Regions from separate parts of the Homo sapiens genome. Here region 1 is linked to region 2. Evidence: fine-mapped expression QTL. A gene starts in region 2. The other region holds a variant in brackets. All regions are shown on one strand. Distances are between the middles of the regions.

What was found. PIP is the estimated chance that this variant, and not a neighbour inherited with it, causes the effect.
Region 1: its variant is the best candidate, but not a certain one, in a credible set for the expression of NAXD in whole blood (INTERVAL, PIP 0.64).

The regions. Positions count from the first base shown.
Region 1 is chr13:110,628,086-110,642,342 of GRCh38, reverse strand. It overlaps NAXD (NAD(P)HX dehydratase), which reads right to left. Exons shown (of 10, transcript NM_001242882.2): 6 at 7,748-7,798; 7 at 7,567-7,671; 8 at 6,755-6,875; 9 at 5,094-5,214; 10 at 2,347-3,965. The coding sequence ends at 3,815. It overlaps CARS2 (cysteinyl-tRNA synthetase 2, mitochondrial), which reads left to right. Exons shown (of 15, transcript NM_024537.4): 14 at 1-28; 15 at 735-926. The coding sequence ends at 806. Among named protein-coding and RNA genes, the nearest start is that of NAXD-AS1, 19 kb to the right of the region's middle. RefSeq lists enhancers at 4,803-5,631, 6,462-7,290, 7,291-8,120, 9,115-9,777. The variant T/C (reference allele first, on the strand shown) is at 5,803.
Region 2 is chr13:110,606,652-110,622,310 of GRCh38, reverse strand. It overlaps NAXD (NAD(P)HX dehydratase), which reads right to left and starts at 6,766. Exons shown (of 10, transcript NM_001242882.2): 1 at 6,664-6,766; 2 at 1-95. The coding sequence starts at 6,709. It overlaps NAXD-AS1 (NAXD antisense RNA 1), which reads left to right and starts at 5,958. Exons shown (of 1, transcript NR_182301.1): 1 at 5,958-9,229. RefSeq lists enhancers at 5,737-5,786, 5,807-5,856, 6,758-7,685, 10,997-11,497, 11,498-11,998 and silencers at 6,137-6,296, 6,307-6,556.

The DNA.
Region 1 (14,257 bases), 21 kb before region 2:
CCTGACTGCCCACGGCATCAACATCAAGGTGAGTGCCGCACCAAGGTCAGGGACATCACCCCAGGAGCCGGGTAGGTCAACAGGACGTGGGGCCATCAGAGGCCCAGACATCCCCCGTGACCATGCTTTTTTTTTGAGACGGAGTTTCACTCTTGTCACCCAGGCTGGAGTGCAATGGCGTGATCTCGGCTCACCACAACCTCTGCCTCTGCCTCCCAGGTTCAAGCGATTCTCCTGCCTCAGCCTCCTGAGTAGCTAGGATTACAGGCATGCACTCCCATGCTCGGCTGATTTTTTATTTTTAGTAGAGACAGGTTTTCTCCACGTGGGTCAGGCTGGTCTCAAACTCCCGACCTCAGGTGATCCTCCCACCTCAGCCTCCCAAAGTGCCAGGATTACAGGCGTGAGCCACTGCGCCCTGCCCATGCTTCTGAGTAGAGAAACCCACCCCCATAAAAAATGAGGTGGGAGGGCCGTGAGGGAGGGGCCAAGTTGGCTGCAGGGGACGCTGAGCACGGGGACGTGGGTCCTGCTCAGCCCCCGCCACCTCCTGCAGGTGCCTTGAAGCTCCTGGCCTTCTGCTGGAGGTAGTGGGGCCCTTTCTAAGCGCCTGGCAAGCTTTTTAGGACAGGCCGGTGAGGGAACAGGCACCCTGAACCTGATTACGCCTGTCAGCCCCCTGTGCCACATGACGTGGTGTCTGCTCAGAGTTGGACCTCACTCTTCTTCTCCAGGACAGAAGCAGTACAACATCCACGTGGGAACTGCTGGATCAAAGGACAAAAGACCAAAAATCAGCGGGCTGAGGATGGAGCACAGCCATGAACCTGCTCACGACAAGACGCACCCATGCTTCTCAGGGTCAAGGCTTTATGTTAAAGCTTCCTGTCGGGGCTGCTAGGTCAGCATTAAAGTAAGGCAACCAACAGTGTCCCACTGGCGTCTGTTTGTTAGTAACTGAGCCTAAACACTCACTGCGTTCTGTGGCTACAGACTCACCGTCGATTGAGTGAAGTAGTGTCAGACATTCAGTAGCATCCAGCAGCACACGTGCCTGTGCGTGAGACCTGCTGGCCCTGTGCCCAGGGAACAGACAACACAGCCAACAGAAGAGCAGGGACCCCGGGAGGCGGCAGAATGCAGCCTGTTTCCTCCTGAGGGAGGGGCTGGGGATGGGTGAGGTGGGTGGGCCACGCAGCATAGTCTGAAGCAGAGGTGGGACGCCAGCAATGCTAACCCCGGGACACCTCCCCCAGCAAGAACACAATCTTACGTTTTCTCTCTGGTTACAAAAGTAACGTATTCAGCATAGGAAAAATGCAGCTGAGAACCCGTCTGCAGTCCCGCTGCAGTTAACATCCTGGCAGCTGCAGGCCATCTTGGTGGTCATGGTCTGTGCAGAGCAGTGATGGGGTCGAGCTGGGCCTGGGAAAGGTTGGTTCCGGAGGAGTCAGGGCAGCCAGGCTGAAAGCCAGCTGGCGAGCTGTGACAGACAGGATTCCTGAGCGGGAGGTGGCGGCCAGCACACGGCAGGCTGCCTGGGCTACAGGACCGGTGGCCTCCTGAAGCACCCACCTTGCTCCTGATCTCACCCTTCTGTGGTAAGCCCAGCGCCACAGCTGTCAGTGACTCAGCAGGGTGACCCCTCTCCACTCTTCCTGCTCGCAGACCCTGGGCCAGGCCTCTCCCTGTCACACTGGCATCTCTGAATCCCAAGGGCACAGGCAGCAGCGGGACCCGTGACTGGGGATACGGGCTTGCTCATCATTTAACCGTGACCCTGAGGTACAGGTCTCCTGTCTACAGTTCAGAAGTCACTCACCTAGAAAATCACCCTAGTAAAGCTACCCACATAGAAAAAGTCCCCAGAGGGCTCCTTACAATGAGGCATCTCGACAGGGCTGCTCAGTACTGGGGCATTACGGGCCGCCCACCCCCCCACACTTTCCCGTTGCTCTCCTGGTCCAGGGAAGCTCCTGGGAGCGTGTCCGGCTGGAGCGAGTGCGTGAAATACGTGGGTTTGAGAAAGAACATGGAAGCAATGAGCTGCTTGTAAAAAAACCCATTCTCTCCTTTAAGCAAAGGGATGTTTTACTTAGAACAAAAACCAGACGAATAGTTCCTGTGACTGCTGAATTCTATTTCCTAAGGAAAGAAGGGGCTGCCTTGGGCTTATCCTTCAAGGTGCTTTATTGCAGCCACCACGGGAGAGGCGCTGGCGAGGAGGCCAATCTCACACAGACAGGCTTAGATATTCTTATCTCCCTGGCATCTCACACAATGTCCTCACCTAAGAAAGTTGAAAGGTGAGCTTTAGCTGTTTAAGGAAAAAAATACAATACTCAATTTAAATTAACCAGATCTGTCTTTTAATAGTTACCAGAATTTAGATGTTAATTCCCCAGAGGAAAAATGTCCATGGCACAGTTTTTCTGGAAAAGTTCACATGTAGACAGTGAAGCTTCTGAAGTTAGGCGTCAAATTAGTAGTGACAATCTTTTTTTTAATCTTGAAAGTCCCTAGTTTTAAAGAAAGTAGAATCCATCTGGGGCATGTCTGCATCACAGGGTATCACTCAAGAGTCATCATCAGGCCAAAAAGACTCTGAAGGGAACCAGGAGGGTTTGGCCCTTGCTGTGGAAAGATGCTACTGAAAGTATAAGAGAACACCCTAATGCACGCGTCAGGCACGAAACCGTACCATGCCCCGCTAAGACATGGGACCAGAGAACACGTCAACGTCAGGCCGCTCCAGGAAAACCATCCACAAAGACAACAGAAGCTAACCCGAGGTCGACACTGCCATGAAGAGTGTTGGCTGAAACCGCAGTTACCAGTGTCTTTACTGGACGCGAACATCCCTAAGGACACGGCTGTGCTGCTTCCTAAGCATACGTGACCACGATACTGTCTTTCCCCGGGTCTCCTTAGCGCCATCACTGCACCAGGCCCAGCATGCCTCAAGTCCTCCAGAGCCTTCTCCTGAGACAGCACTAGGGGCCACGTCAGACCCCAGGCTGCAGCCCTTCACCGTGCCCGTCCCCGGTCCGGTCTGCCCTGCTGGGGCCGGTGGGTATCATGGGGACCCCTGTGTAGACACGGACACCGGAGAGCGTGGGACAGGAGGCGTCTCAGAGCTCCCCACCCACACACTCAAGGGTCAGCGTCACTCATGTTTCCTTCTGTTCCCATGGTGCCTCCAAAAGGGTTTCCAAACAAAGTCATCATTGATTACCCTGGAGTATGTCAATAAGCCAAACACCAGCAGCCAGATACCACCAAGCTAGTCACCACTTTAAAAGAAGATGAGCTGGAGAACGAAGCAGCCCTCTGATGGACCCAGTCAGTGCAGTCGGGACTCAGGGAGACACCCGGGGACCCCTGCCCAGCTCCCTGCCGGAGGAAAGACTAGGGAAGGGAAGCAGAGGAGGAACGAAGGGCGCCGGCAGAGAGAGTAACAAGTAGAAACTTCGCCGATCTGGGAGCAGGCCGAGAAACTCTGTTGAGCTGCTAAAGAATTCTTCATTCTCATGTGATTTTCTTCATTTCTGTCTTCCCAGTTACTACCAAGGAGCTAAGGAAAGTTCAGGAATACTTTGTTTAGTGTCGCCATAACATCTCCAACCATGCATTAAGTTTAACCAAAAGCTGCAATATTCCAGATTCTTAAATTCTCAATGGCAACCAATTTATGCTCAAGTTGAAAATCTGGCAAGCACCGTACGCCTTCAGCACACGCGTGGGTCCGGATTTTCCCATCACACACACGCTCTCCCCCGTCCAAGGTGCCTGTTTACTTCTGGTCTGCGCGGGCTCAGGTTTCAAAGAGCTTGCTGAAGGCGGCCCCCACCTCGGCGATCATGTCGGAGGTGGTGGTGGAGCGACCGTGCTTCTGGAAGGCTTGGTGGTTGCACTGCCTGGTGAGAGAGCAGGCGCCAAACGCGGCCACCAGGAGAGGGCTGGACCTGCGGAGAGGGGGACAGCAGGAGGTGTGGGGAAGTGGGCGTCGTGGTCCGGGGGCCGCAGCTACCCTGGGCTCTGGTTTTGACTCCTGTTTCAATCTCAGGACCCCAAATTGTCAATTTCAAGTCTGATATGCCCCTGAGGAGAAAGCAGGTTTATCACAGCGAAAACCACCATTAACCCTCCACTACTCCCTGGCAGGAGGCACACAGGAAACGTCTATGTACTCGGAGACAGGTCCAGGGCTAGGGCACACAGTGGGCCAGGTGTTCCCGGGGAAAGCCAGGCGGCACAAGCTGCTTAGCCCTGTTTGACTGTGCTCTCAGTGCCCAGGTGCAGAGGGCATCTGAGGTCTGAGAATGGGGATTCCTGCTACCAGGGCTCCATCTCCTGGGGGAGGGGTGGAGGCAACTCGAGTGAACACAGCAGAATGAACAGTAAGACTCCTGCCCACACCCCTACCTCCTCGGCTCTCAAATTCATGTGGACACACCTAGTTTGGGGGATGGTCCCAGACTCTGCCATCCCGGCAATGAGGACACATGAGGCCACTGGATGACAGCCCTGCCCACCCTCCAGAAGCCCGGGTCTGCCACACCTAGCACCTGCAGCCACCACCTTGATGGGCTCACAGAAGAGAAATGGAGATGCTTAGAGGTATGGGAACTGCTTGCATTCATAAAGTTCTCTGACTACAGAACTGGGCCAAGGGCCCTGGTCCTAGAATTCTGCTGTCTCTTAAAGAAAATTCACATCTTTAAGAACAAGTGTCTAAGTAAGCCTTGACCCTGTCTGTTTTCTATCTTAGTATTCTGTGTTACACAGAATAAACCACTCAACTTCCCAGAACAGCGTGCTGCTGGGCCTTGGTTGCACCTCGGAACTCTCTGGAGAGCTCTGAAGACCACCCCTGCCCCAGGCCCCATCCACAGTGAATGATGGACAGGCCCAGGCCCAAGTGTGGGGTGGAAGCTTCTGCCAAGAGGGTTCGTCTGTGCCGAGATCTCTCCAGTGAAGCCTAGAGTTCATTGTCAGTGTTTCCAGGGCTACTTATTCAACGCATGAGCTACTGAAACAGCTTAGAAAAATCAGACGGTTTCAAAGTAGAATAAATGAAGACGTGGCCTTACCCATTTGTTTTCTGTGGTCCAGCAAGGAGCGCCCAGTGTACCAGGACGCCCAGGGAGCCCGACAGGAGGTCCCCTTGCCCTCCACACCTGCGGCTGCTGCCTTCCTGGCTGCACACAAGCACTGCACAGGGCAGAAGTGAGAGCAGGTGTCAGCATGGCCATGTGTGTGAATGTGACAGTAGCCACGGGTGTGGAAGGCCGCACGGCAGGCAGAGCCACACCCTCCAGGAGCAGCCTGAGGCTCCACTCACATCCTGCCTGCTACGGCTCTTCCCTGTTTGTTCCAAGGGTTGGAGGCAGCCTCTGTTTTACAGAAGAGGAAACCAAGACACGCAGTGGTGAGGCTGCCCCAGACCCCGCTGTGTAGCACAGCAGGTTGGTGGAGACACCTGCAGCTCGGAACCGCCTCAGACGAGCCCAAGCAGGCAGCTCTGAGCAGGGCGGCGCCAGCCTCCAGCTCCTCCCACCAGCTCCCAGGGACGGAGCCCTCACCTGCAGCCCACACTCCAGAGTTCACCTTAAACCACAGCTCAACCATACAGGGCAACACCGAGCGAGGCCTCCACCGGCCTCATAACGTCACGTATGCCTGTGTATGGGAATTCTCTATTTCTTTGAAAAATGTTTTGAAAACCAGGTGTTACATTCTCTGAACCTGTTAGACCCAAGAGAGCCTTCCAGTGATTAAAAAACCCTCATCTCAAAGGTG[T/C]CAGAGTCCCTCTGAGAACATCTGCTCTGTGTTCCTTGTGCACAGCTGTGTGTGGATGAGTGTGCGAGGGCGTGTGCGAGGCTGTGAGCATGACCATGCATGTGTATAAGTGCGAGTGTGCAAGGGCGTGCGAGGCTGTGAGCACAACTGTGCATGTGTATGAATTGCATGCGTGTGCACATATGTGCATGTGAATGTGAGTGTACAAGTGTGGATGTGCACACACCCGCCCACAGACGCCTCAGTGTTCTACCCTGATTTTGGTACCTAGTCCAGCCCCACAGCTCAGCAGGTGAGCACATTCGCTGCCCATCATCTGTCCAGGCCTGAATGGAGGGGCTTCCATTTTCAGCGCTAACAAGGGCACGGCTCCCCAGATGCCTCGCTGGCGCTGGGCCCGGCCTCTGCCCTGCTCTCACTTGGCTCTTGCTGAAGCCTCCCCAGGCTCCGTGGGAGTGGCCAGTTGAGACTCGCCACACTCAGTGCCTGAGATTCCACTACCAGCATCAGCTTCGGGGCTTTCTGCACTTTCCAGTCATTTTGATAAAAGAGAATGAAATGCAATAAAATACCCAAATAACTGCATGGATGGTGGATGCCACAGGTGAGATGAAGGTGGCAGCTGGAGACGCGGGACCCTGCACTGTGCCCTGCTGTTGCAGGCACCCTCCCGCCAGACTGCTTCTCATAACTGAGGCAAGGGAATTCAACCAACGGGTAAGGCCCACGGCTCGAAAGCCTGCCCTCACCACTGTCACCTCCCCTGGCAAAACAGTGAAAAGTCAAAACATGGACTCTGAAGAAAGTGTGGTTGACGAGCTCATCAGGAATCCCTGTGTGAATGTGTGTGAACACGGGTGTGCACGGGAGAGGTCTTCCAGGGCTCATGCTCGGTGTGGCCATGCTGACTGACCTGGCACTGGCCCATGCACAGAGGGCAGCCGCCACTCACCCTGCTGGCCGTTGGAGAGGATGTCGCGCTCTCCTTTCTGGACCACCGTCACGTTGCCCAGGGCTTGGCTGAGTCTTAGCACAGATCCATGGCTGTCATCGCTGTCCATAGGGCCTCTGAGCTATGACAACACAGGAAGACAGAGAAAAAGCAAAGTCTTCCTCAGACACACGACGACAGATAGCCCTGTCCCATCCGCCATGAGACTCATGCTCTCGTGTCTAAAGGGATCACCCAGGCACCTGTTAAAGGCCATGTAGGTGGGAGGATGCCCAGGATATCACCTGCAGTGAGTCCTCCGAGCAGGTGCTGACACGGTGCCTGCTCCAGTGCCCATCCTCTACCTCATCAGAGCAGGCTGAAGGAGGACCACCCAAGACTGGGTTCTGAGAGCTTTGCAGGAGTAATACAAATTCCAGTCGTACTGGGCACTAACATTGATGGGACACTTACCATGTGGGGACTCACGGCTTTACATAGGTTTCCTCATCTCATCCTCACAACCCCGTGAAGCTGATGCCATCATCACATTACAGATGAGGCACTCAGGACACAGACAAAGTGACCTGTCCAGAGTGCACTGCAGGAGGGGCTGACTGACCCGAGTCCCTGCCTGTCCCAAGCCCACTACACCATCGTTCATCCAATCCAAGCGCATTAATGGGAAGACGCGCCATCCGCTGGGAGAGGCACAGCGATTACTTGCAGGTGTGTCCACAGGGACAGGCTGGGCAGAAGCATGGAGCTCGTCCTTCACCCTCTTCAGGACGAACAGGGCTTGCATCTACCCTCCAGGGGGTCCACTGACTCACCACAGCGTCATACAGTCTGCTGAACTCCACGTGGTTGGGAGTGAGCACAGCCTTCCGGTAGCCATGGATGAGGGCCGGCTGCTGAGCGACCAGCCACAGGCCATCCTGCACAGAACAAGGAGCCGTGCTCACTGCACAGGCCTTCCGGGAGTCCGAGCCAGGAGGAGAGAAGTCAACTCACCGCGTCGATGACAACAGGGATGTCCCTGGCCTTTGACACTTCCAAAATGCCCTGCCAGAAGAGAAAACCAGACTGAGCACCATGCCTGCTGCTATGGTGTGGGTATGTGTCTTCTCAAAACTCATGGTGAAACTTAATTGCCAAGGGAAGGGTCCTGGGAGGTGGGGCCTTTAAAAGGTGATGTGGCAGTGTCCTCATGGGTTGGTTTAATGACCTTTAAAAGAGGCATAAGGGTCTCTCTCCTGCCCTTCTGCCCTCGCCAGATGCCGGCACCTTGATGTTGGACATCCACCTTCAGAACTGTGAGCCAGTAAACGCCTGTTCATTATCAATTACCCAGTCTGTGGTACGGCTACAGCAGCGCAAAACCGACTAAGACACTTTTCCCAAGAGTGACAGAAAATTGAGCAGACTCTTAATAAAATGCAACATCAGGCCATCAAACAATAAATGGAAAATAATCAAGTAAATGAATAAAATAGAGAAGCAGAAAGACCCAATGAACTCGCAGAGCCCGTAAACAAGGCAGGACACTGGGAACTCTGAAAGGCGAAGCCCACTGGAAACGCTATGAACAACAGCTGGGCTCCTAGGCTAACCCATGAAGACAGCCCCCGCCCCAGCAAGGGCATCCAGTTCTCCAACAGATACTAATACGCAGCATTCGGAGGCAGGAAATCTGAATTCCTGAGAATTCCCCAAATCATTAGTCATTATGTATTTTTCATATCACTTTACTTACACGTTTTAAAATAACAACAATAATAAACAGGGAATCATTTTTCCCTGATAGGATTACAGTGAAGGTTTCAAAGGTTTTCTATTAAAAAAAAAAAACTACATGTATAGATACACACACATATATGTAATATTTGGTGGTTTTTATTATTATGAGCCAATACATTGTGACAAGATTATACACTGCAGTAGCATGTAAAGTGATCCTGACTTGACAGACACCTGATAATACAAAACATTAAAATAGAAAACATTAAACAAAATGAGAGGTGACAGCATGCTGGCAGTCCTCAGAGCCCTCGCTTGCTCTCAGCACCTCCTCTGCCTGGGCTCCCACTTTGGCGGCATTTGAGGAGCCCTTCAGCCCACCACTGCACTGTGGGAGCCCCTTTCTGGGCTGGCCAAGGCTGGAGCCCACTCCCTCAGCTTGCAGGGAGGTGTGGAGGGAGAGGCGCGAGCGGGAACTGGGGCTGCCTGCAGCGCTTGCGGGCCAGCTGGAGTTCCGGGTGGGCGTGGGCTTGGCGGGCCCCGCACTCGGAGCAGCCGGCCAGCCCTGCTGGCCCGGGGCAATGAGGGACTTAGCACCCGGGCCAGCGGCTGCAGAGGGTGTACTGGGTCCTGCAGCAGTGCCAGCCCACCGGCACTGTGCTCAATTTCTCACCGGGCCTTAGCTGCCTTCCCGCCGGGCAGGGCTCGGGACCTGCAGCCCGCCATGCCTGAGCCTCCCACCCCCTCCATGGGCTCCTGTGCGGCCCGAGCCTCCCCGACGAGCACCACCCCCTGCTCCACGGCACCCAGTCCCATCGACCACCCAAGGGCTGAGGAATGCGAACGCACGGCGCAGGACTGGCAGGCAGCTCCACCTGCAGCCCTGGTGCGGGATCCACTGGGTGAAGCCAGCTGGGCTCCTGAGTCTGGTGGGGATGTGGAGAGTCTTTATATCTAGCTCAGGGATTGTAAACACACCAATCAGCACCCTGTGTCTAGCTCAGGGTTTGTGAGTGCACCAATCAGCACCCTGTGTTTAGCTCAGGGTTTGTGAATGCACCAATCGACACTCTGTATCTAGCTGCTCTGGTGGGGCCTTGGAGAACCTTTATGTCTAGGTCAGGGATTGTAAATACACCAATCGGCACTCTGTATCTAGCTCAAGGTTTGTAAATACACCAATCAGCACTCTGTGTCTAACTCAGGGTTTGTGAGTGCACCTATCGACACTCTGTATCTAGATGCTCTGGTGGGGCCTTGGAGAACCTGTGTGTCGAAACTCTGTATCTAACTAATCTGATGGGGACGTGGAGAACCTTTGTGTCTAGCTCAGGGATTGTAAACACACCAATCAGTGCCCTGACAAAACAGGCCACTCGGCTCTACCAATCAGCAGGATGTGGGCGGGGCCGGATAAGAGAATAAAAGCAGGCTGCCCGAGCCAGCATTGGTAACCCGCTCGGGTCCCCTTCCACGCTGTGGAAACTTTGTTCTTTCGCTCTTTGCAATAAATCTTGCTACTGCTCACTCTTTGGGTCCACACTGCTTTTATGAGCTGTAACAGTCACCGCGAAGATCTGCAGCTTCACTCCTGAAGCCAGCGAGACCACGAGCCCACCGGGAGGAACGAACAACTCCAGACGCGCTGCCTTAAGAGCTGTAACACTCACCGCGAAGGTCTGTAGCCTCACTCCTGAGACAGAGACCACGAACCCACCAGAAGGAAGAAACTCCGAACACATCTGAACATCAGAAGGAACAGACTCCAGACGCGCCACCTTAAGAGCTGTAACACTCACCGCGAGGGTCCACGGCTTCATTCTTGAAGTCAGTGAGACCAAGAACCCACCAATTCTGGACATAAAAATACATGCTAAGAATAATTTAAAGTATTGAAAACTAAAGCCGTGTATATTAAATGAAATTTGAAAGCTGACAAAGCATTAGCTGCTCGCCTAACAAAGTGCTCATTTCAGCCTGTTTATGACGCACATTCCAGCCATAGGAAAGTGTGTATTTGGCTCTGACACTGGTCCGAGCATTAGCAGTGTGTCCTGAAGCCCCTTCCAGGGAGGCAGGTACCTGAGACTTCATGGAAGTTTATTATTCCCTTTATTAACAATAAAAATTCTTTGTCTGCTTGCCCTGAGTTTGGCTTTACTGTTAAAACTGGCAGGCTTTTGCTAATTCAGATTTTAGATCAGTTTCTGATTTCATGTTGCAGTATTTGGCAACAATCTGACATTTTCATCTGTTTCTGTGTTTTCTTTTAATGTATTTGCAAATAGTACTCAAAAGTGAATATTCAAACCCTGGAAAATGCAATGTTACATGGGTCTCCTAGAAAGGTTTGCAGCATCAGAGCACCCAGCGCAGAAGGGTGTCCCCACCCATGGGAAAGCAAACCTTGGTACACTAGGGAGAAATCTGGGGGCATCTCTCAAAAATTTAAACGTCCTTACTCTGATTCAGCAATGGAACTTCACCCAAAAGAGTGCACAAAACACATAGATTCAGGACACCACTGATGTTAACATGAAGAAAAAGCTGAAAACAGTGTAAATGAACTAAATACACTGTAGTAGATCCATAAATTCTGATGTGGCTGTTAAAAATAATGAGTATCCACATATCCTTCCATGAAAAAGTCTCCAGGACACACTGTTAACGAGTGTGCAAAGAGCACAGTGTGAGGACAGGTGCATTGGTCAAGAGCCTGCGCTCCAGATTCAGACAACGTGGGTTCAAAGCCAGCCCAGGAACCAGAAGACTTAATGTTGTTAGACATTCCCCCAACTGATCTTCAGTTTCAACATCATCCCTACCAAAGTTGCGGCTGCCTATTCCACAAATCAGCAAGCTGATCCAAAACTGGAATGCATGGGACCCAGGAGAGCCAAAACAACCTTAAAAAGAGCGAATTTGGAGGACTCGGGCTTTCGACGTCAAGGCTTCCTACACAGCCACAGCAGTCAAGACCGGGCAGTTGCAGGACAGCTGTACAGATCAACAAAACAGAAACAACAGTCCAGAAATAAGCCTTCACATTTAGGGTCAACGGATTGTCAGGGAGGATGACAAGTTGGGAGGAAAAAGGAGTCTCTCCAGCACATGGTGCTGCAACAGCTGGACACCCACAAGCAAAAGACTGACGCTGGAGCCTCCTCCTACCACACCAGCATCAGCTCGACATGCACCGCAGAGCTAAAGTAACAACCAAAACAATAAGGCTCTTAACATGTAGGAGTAAACCTTGGGTTAGGCAGAAGCTTCTGAGATAAGACACCAACAGCACAAGGGACAAAAGAAAAAACAGCTAAATTGGACTTCAAAATTAAAAACTGTGCTGTAAACAAAACCATCGAAGTGAAAAGACAACCTACAGAATGAGAGGATATCGGCAAATCGTCTCTCTGATAAGGAACCTGTGTCTAGAACGTATATGAAGAACTCCTAAAAGTCAATAAAAAAAAGGCAAAAAACAGTTTTCAAAGTGGGGAAAGGGTATGAATAGACACTTCTCCAAAGAAGATACCCAAAGAGGCCAGGCATGGTAGCTCACGCCTGTAACCCCAGCACTTTGGGAGGCTGAGGCGGGCGGATACCTAAGGTCAGGAGTTCGAGACCAGCCTGGCCAACATGGTGAAACCCCATCTCTACTAAAAATACAAAAATTAGCTGGGTGTGATGGTGGGCGCCTGTAGTCCAAGCTACTTGGAGGCCAAGGCAAAGGAATCACTTAAACCCAGGAGGTGGAGATTGCAGTGAGCCAAGATCACGCCATTATACTCCAGCCTGGGTGACAGAGTGAGAATATGTCTCAAAAACAAAACAAAACAAAAACAAAAAAAAAGATACCCAAACAGCCAATGAGCACATGCAAAGATGCTCAACAGCATCAGCTGCCAGGAAAACGCAAACCAAACCACAGTGAGGTCGCTCCACGCCCACTAGAGTGGCTGCTAAGTAGACAACAACAGTAACAAGTGCTGGGAACGATGTGGAGAATCAGAGCCCTCGCACACTGCTAGAGGGAATGGAAAATAGTGCAGCCGCTATGGGAAACAGTGGCAGGGCCTCAAAATGTGAAACACTTAACACCCAGGAGAGTGAAAACACATCCACACAAAAAGTGGAAACCAATTTTCCATAAATTAATCAACAGATAAACCAAAGGTGGTGTATGCATACAGTGAAATATTAGATATAAAAAGGAATGGAATACTGATACATGCTACAACACAGGTAACTCTAAATATAAAATTATGCAGAGTGACATAACTAATCACTAAATAGCACACGTTGCATAATTCCATTCATATGAAATGTCCTGAACAGGCGAATCCAGAGAGACAGAAAGCATACTAGCTGAGTGGCTGCCAGGAACTGGGGAGACTGGGGAACAGGGAGCAGATGCTAACGGGGATGGGCTGCTTCTGGAGGCAATAAACATATTCTAAGGTTGATCATGGTGATGGTTGCACAACTATGAATATACTTGAAGCCACCGCATAGTTCACTTTAAATGGGTGAGGGGTATGGTAGGTAAATCATCTAAATAAAGTCGTTTTTAAAAAACCATCTCTGCAGTTTCTTTGCTACCAGATCCCACGGGCGTCTTGAATCCTTGCCAGGACTCAATCTGTCATCAGAAGAATGGGGCTATGAATAGGAATCTACCTAATCGGGTTGTTTTCAGGCCTACACCAGATGATGACCTCATTCAGGAACGTCGACGAAGTAGGAAGCCTCTGCTCCGCACCAGACACGAGCTGGAAGCTGACGAGGAGGCGGCAGCCCACGCTAGATGACCTGAGGGCTCTCAAGACCACGGCAACAGTGTACAGGAACCAGAATGCAAGGTCCAGAGTCTGGGCTGCAGGGGCAGCGACGCACACCCTCACTTCCCACCTTTCACACTTCCACGCAGTACAGTGGTTTTTTAAGATACCAGTTTTTAAATTGTGAACTTAAATTCACAAAGAAAATAACCTGAAGCAGAGCACTCTGGCTCGTTCACCTCTAATTCATCCGCACCCCCAGGATGCAGAGCTGGACAGGAAGCAGCAGCCGTGCACCGCAGACCCGCAGCCTGCAGATGGGACTCCCCATTGAGAGCCTCTCCCCGGGGATGACAGAGGGTTCTACTGCTCCTAAACATGGCCACCTCCTCCTTCCCGGTGAGCGGGTAAGACCTTAAAGCTCAAAGACGGGCTCCCGTGCTGACTCCACGCCGCTTTTCCTGGTCTGTGCAGTGTCAGCCTGCGTCTGCCTGCCCCTCAGATGACTCATCCTGCACTGCTGGCTCCATCACTCGCCGCCTTCAAGCCCCGCAGCCTCAGAGACCCCTCCATTAACTAAGCACCCAACAGAGTGCCATGCAGATGGCTGGCATTTTCAGGGTGACTGCTGATCTGGGGAACACAAAATGGCCAGGCACCTTCTAAGGGCTTCAAGCGTAGTCCCTCACTAATGCCCGGCCTCTGATCCCCATGCAGTCACCACGCCTTGCACATGTGAGCACCCTGTGGCACCAAGCCATCTGGCACACTGTGTCTTCCCCCAGGAGCTCTAACAGGGGTCCCCCGGAACTTGAGAAAGGGTCTCAGAGGGCAGCCCCACAGGAGCACAACCCCCAGCAGAGACACACCAGCCCAGGGAGCGTCAGAGGACGCAGGGAACACAGAGCTGGCAGCCATCCCCATCTTTTTATCGCCCCTGATCCCAGGTGGTATTTATTTACAGCAGGCACAAAGTGATCAGAATAACTTTCATCTTTTGGAT
Region 2 (15,659 bases):
AGACAGAGGAGGTATGATATTTCTCACCAGCTGCAAAGTATTTTCCATATCCTTTATCGAATGTGCTTTACGTAGCGAAAACGCTCTTTCTAAAACTGAAAGACAAGAAAAATGAATAATTCAGAAAGGTAAACAGATATTGTTAGTACACATAATAGCCCATTAACCAAAACCCTCTCCAAAGTTATTACGAATGCTATAGATTTTTACCCAATGGATTTCTGTAAGCAAATATGATGTTCAAAATTACATTAACACATGCAATTTTTTTTTTCTTTTTTGAGACGAACTCTGACTCTGTCACCCAGGCTGGAGTGCAGTGGCGTGATCTCAGCTCACTGCAACCTCTGCCTCCCAGGTTCAAGCAATTCTCCTGCCTCAGCCTCCTGAGCAGCTGGGATTATAGGTGTCTACTACCACACCTGGCTAATTTTTGTATTTTCAGTAGAGATAGGGTTTCATCATGTTGGCCATGCTGGTCTAGAACTCCTGACCTCAAGTGATCTGCCAGCTGCAGCCTCTCAAAGTGCTGGGATTACAGGCGTGAACCACCATGCCCAGCCTGAACACATGTAATTAACACATATAGTAACACATGCTATTTATTTATTTATTTGAGACAGAGTCTAGCTCTGTCACCCAAGCTGGAGTGCAGTGGCACGATCCTGCTCACTGCAACCTCCACCTCCTGGGTTCAAGCGATTCTCCTGCCTCAGCCTCCGGAGTATCTGGGATTACAGGCACCTGCCACCCTGCCCTGCTAATTTTTGTATTCTTAGTAGAGACAGGGTTTCACCATGTTGGCCAGGCTGGTCTCCAACTCCTTACCTCAAGTGATCTGCCCGCCTCAGCCTCCCAAAGTGCTGGGATTACAGGCATGAGCCACCCCACCAGGACAACATATGCTATTTCTATCAGGTTTATTTTTGAAATGTATCTGAAATTTTGGAAGACCATTTAATTTTCCAGAAAGTTTTATCAAGTAAAAAAATGCATTATTACTTAATAAACTATCACTTCATTTCAATTTCCCTTTAGGATTATTAGGTCTTTTCTCTCCTCACAAACTGGAAAGCAAGCTCCCACCTGTAATCCGCTGGGGTGCTCAGAAGTCTGACAGATTCATCATATTACTCCCAACTGTATTCCAACACTCAACTGGGTATTAATTAAATAACCTAGAAATGGCATTCTAAATATGGCACACCTCTTAAATTGGGTTCAAAGTGGCATTTAATGTATTTTCATCATCTTGAGTTGTCTCTAAACAGCTACACTTCAATTGGCCTTTCTTGAAGAGCTTCCTGTGTTATATATTTTACCTTAATATTTAAAACAGCTCGGCTATGAGAGAAATGCTGGTATGTTCTATAGAGCTCAATGAATAAAGCATACATTCTCCCTAGAATGAAAGGATCTTTGCAAATATAAACAGTATTTTTTCAAACAAGGCACTCAATATTTTTATCCTTCCAATTATCTCAGCAGCAGAGAAAAACCAGTGTCACAAGTTCCACTGACTGCAGTCCAAAGCTCACTGAGCGTTTCACAGCAAAAGAGCTTTGTCTTTTAACTCTTACAGTTTTACTTTTTACTCAACAAAACTTTTGAAGGAATTTTCTTTATGAGTAGATGTAACTGCCTTAGCTGATAGAGCAGATGCTGGGATTCCCCAAGATAAAAAGATCCTATGAATCCCCATCAACCCAAATTCTTTTTTTTTTTTTTTTTTGAGACAGAGTCTCACTCTGTCGCCAGGCTGGAGTGCAGTGGTACAATCTCGGCTCACTGCAACCTACGACCCCCTGGTCCAAGCAATTCTCCTGCGTCAGCCTCCTGAGTAGCTGGGACTACAGGCGCATGCCACCACGCCCAGCTAATTTTTGTATTTTTAGCAGAGACGGGGTTTCACCATGTTGGCCAGGGTGGTCTCGATCTCCTGACCTTGTGATCTGCCCACCTCGGCCTCCCAAAGTGCTAGGATTACAGGTGTGAGCCACCGCGCTCAGCCCAACCCCAAATCTTTTCACCTTCTTCCAGACCAACACACAAGACCCGGCACAGAATCACTATAAACTGTGGGCCAAGGAGAGACACAATGAAGCTTGCTGAGCTACCTGCAGGGGACCAATGCACCCATCCTTGAAATCCCTCCAGGAGGGCTAAATTATGGTTTTAAAACAATACACTTGTCTAGAAGAGACATTTATGGGGCCAGGCGCAGTGGCTCCCCGCTGTAATCTCAGCACTTTGGGAGGCCAAGGTGGGTGGATCACTTGAGGTCAGGAGTTCGAGACCAGCCTGGCCAACATAGTGAAACCCCATCTCTACTAAAAATACAAAAATTAGTTGGGCACGGTGGTGCATGCCTGTAATTCCAGCTACTCGGGAGGCTGAGGCAGAAGAACTGTTTGAACCCAGAAGGTGGAGGCTGCAGTGAGCCAAGATTATGCCACTGCACTCCAGCCTGGGTGACACAGCGAGACTCTTGTCTCAAAAAAAAAGACATTTATGGGTATCGATCAGCATCCTGTCTTTGTCGTGGGGAGCTGTTCTATGCACTGAAGGATGCTGAGCAGCATCCCCGGCTTCTACCCAGTCAGCAGTGCATGTACACGCACCCAGTGGTGACAACCAGCAATATCTCAACACTCCCAAATGTCTTCTGGATGGGGCAAAATGAGCCTGGGTTAAGAACCACTAGTAGAGATGCATGCGTGTAGTTTTAGCACCTTTAAATATACCAGTACTTCAAATTAAATATTTAAGGTCATATAAAATATAAATTGTGACTTATGAAATCACAGAGAAAAACAATTTAGTCAGACTTCAACTTACGGATGTTAAAAATCAACATTTATATCAATGTACCCTGCCTGATGAAAACAACTCCTAAATGGTAATACTTCATAAATGTGTATTTCTCACAATAAGAAAAGGAATAAAATGGTTCCACCAGATAATACTGTATATTTTCCAGGAGGCTTCTTTCTCCCAATATCCAAGATTCATATCTTACAAACATCTGTATCTTAAATTTCAGATTTAAGTCTTAAAAAAAGTACTATAGGTGAGGTATGAAATATTTAATGTTTATATCAAAAAGGGCAAATACCATAAACCCACACTGAACTACCCATTTGCACTTTGCCTCATAGTTGAAATAACCTATACATTACCGGAAAGGATCTGACACAAAATTAAGCTGCAGCCACGAGTCCAGGTGGAGCACCTGTCAGGTGGAGGGGAGCACCAATGCCCCTCTGCAACCAGTGTCGCCCAGCACTCCCAGGAGGGCACAGCAGGGCCGCCTCGGGGTCACAACTGCAGCACCAGAGCTCCCAGGGATGCTGTGTTCCAAGTGCTTGTCCTCTCCGCATCTGCTCCCCAGAGCGGAAAAGCTTCCCTTCTGCGTCACACTCTGCTGAAAGTCCTCCCAGTACTTTTGGTACTGGGATAGCACCTTTCTGATCTTTTTGGTTGAGAAAGAGGAGATATGCTAGTCCAGGCAAGGATACGCTTAAAACCTACAGGCTTTAAAGCTAATACTGATTTTTGTTGTTATTCAAATAATGACAAGAACACATACAATTTTTCCTGCACTTCAAGGTAAGCTTTGTTAAAATGATAAGATATCAGGGGGCTCAAACATCGAATACAATATACGAATAAGGGCCACTTTCTAAGGCGGATTTTTCTACAGCAGGTTAAGCATTAAAGTCCCATTTACCACAAGCCAAAAATATCAATTCTGAGTGTGTAAAACCCACTGCATTCACACGGCAATCTTTATCATAGCTAGGAAGAAAACACGGGGGGAATCCTGTTCTGAGCTATTCCTTTATCTTATACAGAAGGTAGTGTTTTGAAGCCCAAAATGTGCAAACCACCTTCACAGCAACTTGATCAACCCACCAGCGGGAGTCGCCTCCTCCTGCTCCTGTTCCGTTGTGAAATCTTAAGACTTTGTGAGATTCCCAGTTCCCTGGCCATGATGCTACCGTAAGGGCTGGGTCTAAGAACCCTGGAGAACAAGAAGCGCCATCCAGAAACTGAATATTTCAAGATTTACACATGAGAACAACGGCTCTCAAATGGAAGCTAGCTTAAAATTATGTTAAACTCATAATATAATTAATAGTAACTTTTTTGCTACATAATTTTAAAAATTCAAAGTGATACCAAAAGTAACTATTATTACATGTGGGGTTCTGAAACCTTTCGAGCACACAGACAACCTACATGGTAGGGGCTGACCTGGACATAAGAAGGAAGTTCTTATGTCTGGACTGGCAGAGAATCAGCACCCTACTACTGCCTGCCCACGAGGAATGTGGCACCATCCGCAAGCTGCAGCACTGACTGCTTCCATGTGGGACTCAATCACCTCGAACACAGCCTGGCACAGAACAAGACACTTGATACATGTTCGATGAAGTCAAGACATCGTGATTCACTCTCCTCACTAGCACTTTATCTTTCTTTTACAGATAAGGAAACTGGGGCCCAGAGAGAAACCTGTGCAGATGCTGTGGTTAGTAATGGACAAGCCAGGCCACAAGACACTATTTTACCAAAGTGCTGCCATGTTTTTGTTTTTATTTTTGTGGGCACACAGTAGGTGTAAAATGCTGCCATTTTAAGGCAAAATAAGAAGTATAGCATTTTCACTTGAATAGAATTGTATTAACACAAAGTAAAATCCAGGCTGCTCACCAGCATTCACCTAAGATAAACAGCTTCTGTTAGCAAAAGGGCCAAAGCAGGTCAACTAAACTTCCCAGCACTTGGCAGTGAAGCAAGTTCCAGCTGGCTTACTGACGTCACCATTTGAACTTAACATTTCAAATGTTAACACAGAAACATTTACATATAAAGATCAAAGTTCTGAAGGATAAAAAGGCCTTGACAATAGGCGACTTAAGATGTATCCCATTCGGTAACTCTTCAGACAATTCTGAGTCTGGAAGAACAGGTTAAATTTGTTTGGCTTTTGTTTTAAGGAAGCGTGTCTGGGGAAGACTATCACTGCTGCTTTGTGCTAAAAGTGCTTTTAGTACTGGAAAATTCTACTTAAAAAAACAAAAATACTTTAAGTTAATGTGAGTTATAACTAATTTAGAGCATTTAACCACAATCCCTAAGTTAACTGAAATATTTCCTAAAGCCTCAGTAATATACAACTCTACCTGGCTTTTCGTAAAAGTTTAGGCAGTCTGATAATAAATCCTCAACCAAGCGCAATGAAAAATCTTGCTACTAATCACGGTGTGTGAATTTAAGGTAAAGAGCTACAAATAAATCTCTAAATAAAGTGTTAAGAAGCCTCCCTGCTGGTGTGAGTGAGGTGCAGTGTAGAGTACCCTCTCAGCGCCACCCAGTGCATTCTCAGTGTGTGCTGATGAAAACAAAAAGCCAAACTCTCTGACGATGCCCAACATACACACAAGGTAAAATCTATCTAATGACTACAGCAACAAATGGTGCGTTTAACCATTTCGGCCACTCACTGGCTGGAGAATCCTGGCTAAGTCACTTTCTCTGAGCTTCTATTTATCTTCTATACCAAGGTGGATAACAGCAATCTCTCCTTATGAGAAATGAGATATACACGAACTACTTCCTGTATAAAATATGTTAGATACACCAATACCAACAAGGCAAACAGAAAGACAAAAAAACCCTATGAAGAGATGGGGCTCCAAGCACTTGCTCAGCTCCTGTTTAAATTCTTTCTACCTTATCCGTTCTATTTGAAAAGGCATCTCAGCGTGCAAGGACCAGCCAAGGCCAGGGCAGGGCCCTCGGGGACATCTGGCCAGCACTTCAGGTTCTGGGGATGACTCAGGTGAGCCTCCCTCCCCAAGGGACCTCCTACACGCACACACACACCCCGAACCGGGGGCGGGCGAAGGAGGCCTGGCTGGTGGAGTCCTTTTCTGCGGCCCAGGCGTCGCAATATCCAGTCCCTCTCGTCCAAGGACGTGCAGGGTCTGTACTTGCCCAGTCGCACTGGGACTTCAAATTGGGGATGCAGACACGGCCCTGCTCCTGGTGTGCGCGAAGCCCGCTCAGCCGGCCAGCTCGCCTGCACGCCCGCCGCGTCCCTGGGCCCCAGGAGGGCCCCCGTATCCAGCTCCGACCAAACAGCAAGCCCGCAGTTGGCGAGCATCTTTCCCAGACCGGGAGCGGGGACAGAGCAGAGCAGACGGATCCGACCAGCGCACCACGGCGCCCCAGGGCCCTCCTACCGTCCTCGGCCCTCGGCCCCCCGTTCCCCGGCCACCGCGCGGGCTCCGCCGCTCCTGGGACGCGCACTGGCTCCGGCCCGGCGCCACCCTCTGCCCCTCTGTCACCCCGCACGGAGGCTCCCATCACCCAAGCCGCGCCCAGCCGTCGCCGCGCCGTTCCAGGAGGCCTCCGTCCTCTCCCTACTCCGCCCCGCAGGCCACACGGCGCCCCGGCCCCGCGCGCGGGCTGCCCCTCGGCGGCGCTTCCCCCCCGCGAGCCAGCAGAGGCGGTCAGCGGTCGGGTACCTGCGTCCAGTGGCGGCCCGTACAGCGCGAGTGCGGCCGAGAGCAATGCGACAACGACCGCGCCGGCGACGGCAGTTCCGGCCCCCGCGCGTGTGACCATCCCCGGGCCAAATGGAATCGACCTTACCTCGTCTGCAAGCCCGGATTGCCCCACAGCGAGGACCCAGGGCCATCGGGCAGCATTCCGGATTCCCAGCTGCCCCCGCGCCGTCGCCGGAAACACAGCCATTGGAAGCGTTTTCCGGTTTCCCGACCGCCTCCGCGCGGCTGTCGGCAGTGGGATCCCAACTCGCTCAATCACACCCGGTTCTAGATGATTGACAAGCGCGACGCCCAACCCGGCCTGGTCCCAGCTCTGGCCTAAGAGGTTCGGCTGGAAGGCAGGTTGAAGAGTTAACAACGATCTGGTTCAGGGTCTGGTTTGTGTTTATCGGCCCATTTTTAGGCTTGCGGCGTTATAGAAAATGATTTTGCTGGCAGGTGGAGTGCCGAGGCCCACTATGTGCCCCCAGTATAGCAGTCAGGTGCCTTTCTGCTCCAGGCGCAACCTCTGCCCTGAACCCCAAACCAGCTCGCTGCGAGGCCCCTTCGCTTTCCACCGTCTCAGGTCAGGGCAGCTCCATCACTCCAACGCTGAGGCCCAAACCCCTGGAAGGCATTCTGACCTCTCCTGCCCTCCCACCCACGCTCCTCCTGTGGCTGATGGCCTCTTACCTCCACTGCCGCCCTATTTGAAGCCACCGTCATGGTGCTAAAAGAAACTTGTGGGGCCAGGTGCGGTGGCTCGCGCGTGTGATCCCAATGCTTTGGGAGGCCAAGATGGAAGGATCGTTTGAGCCCAGGAGTTTGAGACCAGCCTGGACAACATAAGGAGACCCCCTTCTCTACCAAAATTTTTTTGGAAAATTAGCAGGGGATGGTGTGGCACACCTGTAGTCCAGCTACTTGAGAGGCTGAGGTGAAAGGATGGCTCAACATGTCAGAGGCCTTTTAACCAGAGCGATTCCATCTTGAATAGGGACTGGGTAAAATGAGGGTGAGACCTACTGGGCTGCATTCCCAGGGGGTTAGACATTCTTGGCCACAGGATGAGGTGGTGGGCACAAGATACAGGTCACAAAGACCGCACTGATAAGATGACACAGTAAAGAAACTGGCCCAAAGCCTACCAAAACCAAGATGGCCACAAAAGTGACCTCTGTGTCCTCATTGCTCATTATTTGCTGATTATAACGTATTAGCATGCTAAAGGACACTCCTACCAGCGCCATGAGAGTTTACAAATGCTATGGCAACATCAGGAAATTACTCTATATGGTCTAAAAAGGGGAGGAACCCTCAGTTCCAGCAATTGCCAACCTCTTTCCCAGAAAACTCATGAATAATCCCCTCCTTATTTAGCCTATAATCAAGAGATAACTATAACTATGTGTGGAGTTAGTTCCTGCCGGTGGGTTCATGGTCTCACTGACTTCAAGAATGAAGCTGCGGACCTTCACAGTGTTACAGCTCTTAAAGGTGGCATAGACCCAAAGAGTGAGCAGCAGCAAGATTTATTATGAAGAGGCCGGGCGTGGTGGCTCATGCCTGTAAGCCCAGCACTTTGGGAGGCCGAGGCGGGTGGATCACAAGGTCAGGAGATCGAGACCATCTTGGCTAACACGGTGAAACCCTGTCTCTACTAAAAATACAAAAAATTAGCCGGACATGGTGGCGGGCGCCTGTAATCCCAGCTACCCAGGAGGCTGAGGCAGGAGAATGGCGTGAACCTGGGAGGCAGAGCTTCCAGTGAGCCGAGATCGGGCCACTGCACTCCAGCCTGGGCCACAGAGCGAGACTCCACCTCAAAAAAAAAAAAAAAAAGATTCATTATGAAGAGCAAAAGAACAAAGCTTCCACAGCATGGAAGGGGACCCAAGTGGATTGCTGCTGCTGGCTGGCGGGGGTGGGGGGGTGGGGCAGCTTTTATTCCCTTATTTCTCCCCTCCCATGTTCTGTTTCTGCCCTATCGGAATGCCCTTTTTTCAATCTTTCCTGCAATTGGCTACTTTTAGGATCCTGCTGATTGGTGCGTTTTACAGAGCACTGATTGGTGCATTTTACAATCCTCTTGCTAGCTACAGAGCGCTCATTGGTGCATTTTACAATCCTAGCTACAGAGTGCTGATTGGTGCATTTTACAATCCTCTTGTAAGACAGAAAAGTTCTCCAAGTCCCCACTCGACCCAGGAAGTCCAGCTGGCTTCAAGTCTCATAAGTATATTCAGTCAAGCAGCCAGTGCCACTGCTCTGCCTATGGAGTAGCCATTCTTTTATTCCCTTTCTTAATAAGTTTGCTTTCAATTTATGGACTCGCCCAGAATTCTTTCTTGCACAAGGTCCAAGAACCCTCTTGAGGTCTGGATTGGAACCCCTTTCTGATAACAGAGTGAAACCCTGAACTACACCTACCAGACCAAACCAGTAAGGAGTTTAACTACAGTAACTGAGCTTTACTTCATGGCAGGAAACTCTGTAACCAGTTAAGCAATGAAGTTATAATCAAATTAGCTGTCTCCATCACACACTTCTGTTTCCTATAGGTGCTGTCAGATCAGGTTCCTGATTGGAGTTCTCTTATCTGCTCTGGTTTGGAGGGCTGCCCCATTCGGGAATCTGTTTTGTTTTGCTCAAATACACTCAGTTAAAACATACACGTGTCTAAGGTTTTTCCATTTAACAGTGTGTGGCCTGGATGATGGCAATAGTCTGCTGCATGAGTGTCAATGAAAAGAGTCAAACTCTAAAATATTCGAGATTTATTCTGATCCAAAGATGAGTGACCATGGCTTGTAACATAGCCCCTGCAGATCCTGAGAACATGTGCCCAGGGTAGTCGGGCTAAGCTTGGTTTTATACATGGTAGGGATACGGAAGACATCAATCAGTACATGTAAGAAGTACGTTGGTTCAGCCCAGAAAGGTGGGACAACTCCAAGAGAGGAGCTTCCAGTCATAGGTGGATTCAAAGATTTTCTGATTGGCAATTGGTAGAAAGTTTACTTAAAGACTTGGAATCAGTAGAAGGAAGTGTCTGGGTTAAGATAAGGGGTTGTGCAGATGAGGCCTCCAGGTAGCAGGCTTCAAAGAGAATGAATTGTAGATGTTTCTTTTTGTTGTTGTTGTTGTTTGAGACAGAGTCTCACTCTGTTGCCCAGGCTGGAGTCCAATGGCACAATCTTGGCCCACTGCAACCTCTGCCCCCCAGGTTCAAGCGATCCACCCTACTCAGCCTCCCAAGTAGCTGGAACTACAGGCGTGCACCACCACACCCGGCCAATTTTTGTATTTTTAGTAAAGACAGGGTTTCACTGTGTTGGCCAGGCTGGTCTCCAACTCCTGACCTCAAGTGATCCTCTGCCTTAGACTCCCAAAGTGCTGGCATTACAGGTGTGGCCCACCTCACCTGGACTTTGTAAATGTTTCTTATCAAACTTCAGGTGCCGGACTCTTAGTAAATTATCTCCTGGATCAAGAAAAAGACCTGGAAAAGGAAGGGGAGTCTCCTCAGAATGTAGATGTTTTTCCCCAAAGAGACAGTTTTGCAAGGCTATTTCAAAATATGCCAAATGAATATATTTGGGGTAAAATACTCCAGTTTCTTTCAGGGCTTGCAATCTGTCACATTGGTATCTTATTGCTACAAAAATTCTGCTTTGTCAGTCTTAAGGTCTCTGTTTTAACGTTAATGCTGGTCAACTGTGCCTGAATTCCAAAGGGAGGAGGGTATAATGAGGCATCCATCCCCCCTTTCCATCTCGGCCTGAACGAGTGTTTCAGGTTTACTGTAAAATGCCCTTGGCACCCTCCCCAGCCTCTGCCTCTGTCATCACATGATGGTCTCCTTGTCCTCACGTGGGATTTTCCTCTCCTTTAAGGACACCAGTCATATTGGAGTAGGGCCCACCCTAATGATCTCATCTCATCTTAATTCAATAATCTATAAAGACCTCACTTCCAGTTACGGTTATAGTCACAGGTACTAGGGGTTAGGATTTAACATATTCTGAGGAGACACAACTCAACCCATAATACCTTCTGTTAATAAATTAACCTCCCTGCTTTCCTACAGCAATAGAATGATCTTTCCTATAAGTCAGATCATGTCACTCCTCTGCATAGAACCATCCAACTGTTTTCCATGACACTCAGATTAAAATTAAGGTGCATTCCATCACTCTCCGACCCCTATGTGATTGGCGCCCCCAATCACCTACAGCTGTCGGAGGTCTCCGGAGGGTCTCTGGATGCCACTGAGACCCCAGCCCCAGCCAGTTTCCAAGTTCTTGACACCAGCATGAGAAAGAATTCAGGGACACGTCAGAATGAAACGAAAGGCAAGAAGCTTTTACTGCAAAGCGAAAGCACACACGTAAAAGAGAATTGCGGGCGTGCTCAGCAGAGTGAGTCACATCAGAGTTTGAGTTTCTAATTTTATGGATTTTTTTTTAATTAGGGGGTGGAATAATCATAAGGTATTCTGGAAAAGGAGTGATTTCAGGGACTCCCTCCCCCCATTACCACAGACTTTTACCCTTATTCAAGTTTTCCCAGGATCATGGACATATCACCCTGACCAGGATTTGACCATTTTCTCTTCCTTATTTTGGGTTTTCTGTTAACCTGCGGTTTCTTTGCCTCGTTCTTATTCTAGCTGTTGTTTGGGTTTTTCCATCCTCCTGTGACCACCCAGTGCTATTCCCATTTCATTTTCCCCCTTGGAGATTTCCATCCCTTCTTCTTTTATTTATTTTCTTTCTTTCTTTTTTTGAGACAGGGTCTCACTCTGTTACCCAGGCTGGGATGCAGTGGCATAATCATGGCTCACTGCAGCCTCCCCTTCCCAGGCTCCAGCGATCCTCAGACTTCAGCTTCCTGAGTATCTGGGACCACAGGTGTGTGCTACCACGCCCGGCTAATTTTTGTATTTTTGGTAGAGATGGGTTTTTGCCATGTTGTGCAGGGTGGTCTCAAACTCTTGAGCTCAAGCGATCTGCCTACCTTGGCCTCCCAAAGTGCTGGGATTACAGGCATGAGCCACCTACCGTGCTCAGCCATTCCATCCCTTATTCTTGAGGGAGATGAGGGAGGAGGTCAGTCTTCCGTGTCATCTTCCTGCTGATTTAAGAGCACTGGCCCTGCCTACCGAGGGCATGGGAATCTCCAGCTGCTTGATCTAAGGGTCCCCAGGGGACAGCAGGAGCGTCTGATTCCAAGACAGGAAGCAGCTGGAACCCTAGCTTGAAGATCACCTTTACCTAGATCTGCTGTAACCAGAGACAGGCACTTTACAAGCAAGTTGAATATGCATGGGCCAAATATTAACGATGAGCTCACCCTTAACGGGCCCAAAAGTGGTAAAAACCAGGTACTAGAAGGTACAGCAGCTTTAACAGCATCCCACATAAAATCAGCAGGAGGGTTTTTCTTTTCGAGGGTGCAAAGGCATTTTGCCTGGTCATTTGTGCCTGAATTCCAAGGCATGGGGGAAAGTGGAGTGAGGCGTGTCTGACCCCCAGCTTTCCATCATGGCCTGAACTAGTTTTTCAGGTTTTTTTTTTTTTTTTAATTGGATCCCCTTTGGGCAAGAGGCGTGTCCATTCTACTAGGGAGGATGCAGATTTTTTTTAGTTTATAGTCCGCTTTTTGTAAAGGTATGCCAGAGGCAGTGTCAATGGCCAAGCTTTTATTTTGTCCCATATTGATGCCGGGGGGGGGGGGGGGGGGGGGGGGTGCTACCTGTGCCAGGTCTATCATGTCCCTCAGTGGGACCCCTACGGCTAAGGGACTTAGAGTCAAAAGACTTATAACCAATTAATTATTCTAAGCCAAATGGAATGGAAGTGCGCAGGCACTCATTAACCTTCGAATCTCTTTTAAGCAACATAAGAACCAAAAACCAAAAGCCAAAAGACAAGGTAACATAATTGACTTATTTATAAATTATGTGCATTGAGCCACCATAATCTGGTTTGTAGCAATTAGCTATACAAAACACAAGCATTTTGTTAAGCTGCTGAGGCATCTCTGTGACCATTAATGACTGAATCCATTAATTCAGTTGGAGGATCTGAATTAATTTTATTCCTCAGAATTGGCCCTTACAATCTTATGCTGGGCCTGGAGGGATTGTATAGTTCAAATTCTGGAGGCACAACAAACGCAAGGAGCTAAAAACATTTTAAACAAAAAGGTCACAAGCCCTGCCTAGTTTTGCAAATGATAGAAAAAAAATTAAACCTTTAAATTATTTAGTATCTAGGCATAGAATAAATATTACATTATTTCAAATAAAGGCAAAATTATTAAATGAACCTTTTTTTTTGAGACGGAGTCTCGCTCTGTCGCCCAGGCTGGAGTGCAGTGGCGCGATCTCGGCTCACTGCAAGCTCCGCCTCCCGGGTTCACGCCATTCTCCTGCCTCAGCCTCCCGAGTAGCGCCCGCCACCACGCCCGGCTAATTTTTTGTATTTTTAGTAGAGACGGGGTTTCACCTTGTTAGCCAGGATGGTCTCGATCTCCTGACCTCGTGGATCCACCCACCTCGGCCTCCCAAAGTGCTGGGATTACAGGCGTGAGCCACTGCGCCCAGCCTAAATGAACCTTAATGTATTTGAATACAGGCCTGTCCCTGTGTTTCATGAAAGCAGTTTACTTTGAGTGTCACCTTTGCCCAGGTCTAAAGATGAGGCTTTGGTCATCTTGAGTTTGGTGTCAGTTTCTGGTAGGAGTCAGTGCGTTCTTCAGATGCGACATGTGTACCCAGGAGTCAAGGCCCTGCAACTTAACAGCACGAAAATTAGTTAATAGACCCCGATAAGGACTCCCTCAAGGGGCTAAGGGAGTTCTTCAGCTGATTTGCTTCCAGTAAATGTAATTATCAGGCCAGAGGTGGTGATAGTGGAGTTCATGGTCTGACTGGAAGCTGTAAAAATGTTCACAGCCGGACGAGGTGGCTCGCGCCTGTAATCCCAGCACTTTGGGAGGCCGAGGCGGACGGATCTCTAGGTCAGGAGTTCGAGACCAGCCCGGCCAACATGGTGAAACCCCGTCTCTACTAAAAATACAAAAAATTAGCTGGAACGTGGTGGCACGTGTCTGTAATCCCAGCTACTCGGGAGGCTGAGGCAGGAGAATCACTTGAACCCGGGAGCCGGAGGTTGCAATGAGCCGGGATCTCGCCATTGCACTCCAGGCTGGGTGACAGGGCGAGACTCCGTCTCAAAAAAAAAAAAAAGTTCTACAACCTTGCAGCAATTAATTTTTATAGATTTAATAAGCCCCAGCAATAAGACACCTCAGAGACTTAATTTAGGATTTTGATTTTGAGGACGTTTATTAAAGATGTTAAAAGGCTCAAAACATCTGATCCAAACAGAAGCACAGGTCATTGTAAAATAATAGTTACTTACTTAACAAAAGTGATAATCAAAAGACTTTAAAGGCAATACAGAAGGTAATACGGATGTAAAAACCTTGACCCTTTTACATTTCAGATTTTGCAATCAAAAACCTAATAAAGACAGCATGAGAATTATAAAATCTTGTCTCTTAAGCCAGTTACCAAAAAAGCAAAGAAAAATCTGCAGTGACTGCTTCTCCTTATGAGAAGCCCACTTAGATAACCTGGAAGTCAAGTTTGATGAAAAAGTACTGGAATTTAATCAGACACAGGAAGAGTGTGTTCAAGGTTATGAGCATACCACGGGAATACATGACTCTTAGGAACAGCATGAGAAGTTTCTTGATTACACTGAAAATTTAGACATATCAAAAAAAGCCTAGAGTACAGAACGGAGGAAAACAATGTTTTCTGTTTTGACCTTCAAGATAAAACATTTCAGCCTTAGGCCGTAACAGTAAAATTGAAACCAGAAGAAAAAAGTTACAAGAGCTGACAAAAAGGCTGAGTTACCATCTCAGGCCTTCTCAACAGAGAAAAGGCAGAAACAGATTATAGAATTATTATGAAAAGCAGAAGTTCAATTAATTTTATTGAGAGCAAATCAATACTTTAAAGAAGCTTTGTTTTAACATACAGGACTATTATAAATGATTTCCTTTTTTAAAAAGTCCATTAAAACATTTTTTTTTAAATTTTTTTCTAAGAGAGCCTGGCTTTGTCACCTAGGCTGGAATGCAATGGCACGATCTTGGCTCACTGCAACCTTCGTCTCCCAGGTTCAAGCGATTCTCTTGCCTCAGCCTCCTGTGTAACTGGAATTACAGGAATGAGCCACCATGCCTGGCTATTTTTTGTATTTTTAGTAGAGACGGGGTTTCACCATGTTGGTCAGGCTGGACTTGAACTCCTGACCTCATATGATCCGCCCACCTCAGCCTCCCAAAGTGCTGGGATTACAGGCATGAGCCACCGTGCCTAGCCAATTTCCTTTTAATTATAACCAAGTTGCCTCTCCCCTCTCCCCTCTCCCCACGGTCTCCCTCTCCCTCTCTTTCCACAGTCTCCCTCTGATGCCGAGCCGAAGCTGGACTGTACTGCTGCCATCTCGGCTCACTGCAACCTCCCTGCCTGATTCTTCTGCCTCAGCCTGCCGAGTGCCTGCGATTGCAGGCGCGCGCCGCCACGCCTGACTGGTTTTCGTATTTTTTTGGTGGAGATGGGGTTTCACTGTGTTGGCCGGGCTGGTCTCCAGCTCCTAACCGCGAGTGATCCGCCAGCCTCAGCCTCTCGAGGTGCCGGGATTGCAGACGGAGTCTCGTTCACTCAGTGCTCAGTGGTGCCCAGGCTGGAGTGCAGTGGCGTGATCTCGGCTCGCTACAACCTCCACCTCCCAGCCGCCTGCCTTGGCCTCCCAAAGTGCCGAGATTGCAGCCTCTGCCCAGCCGCCACCCCGTCTGGGAAGTGAGGAGTGTCTCTGCCTGGCCGCCCATCGTCTGGGATGTGAGGAGCCCCTCTGCCTGGCTGCCCAGTCTGGAAAGTGAGGAGCGTCTCTGCCCGGCCGCCATCCCATCTAGGAAGTGAGGAGCACCTCTTCCCGGCCGCCATCCCATCTAGGAAGTGAGGAGCGTCTCTGCCTGGCCGCCCATCATCTGACATGTGGGGAGCGCCTCTGCCCTGCC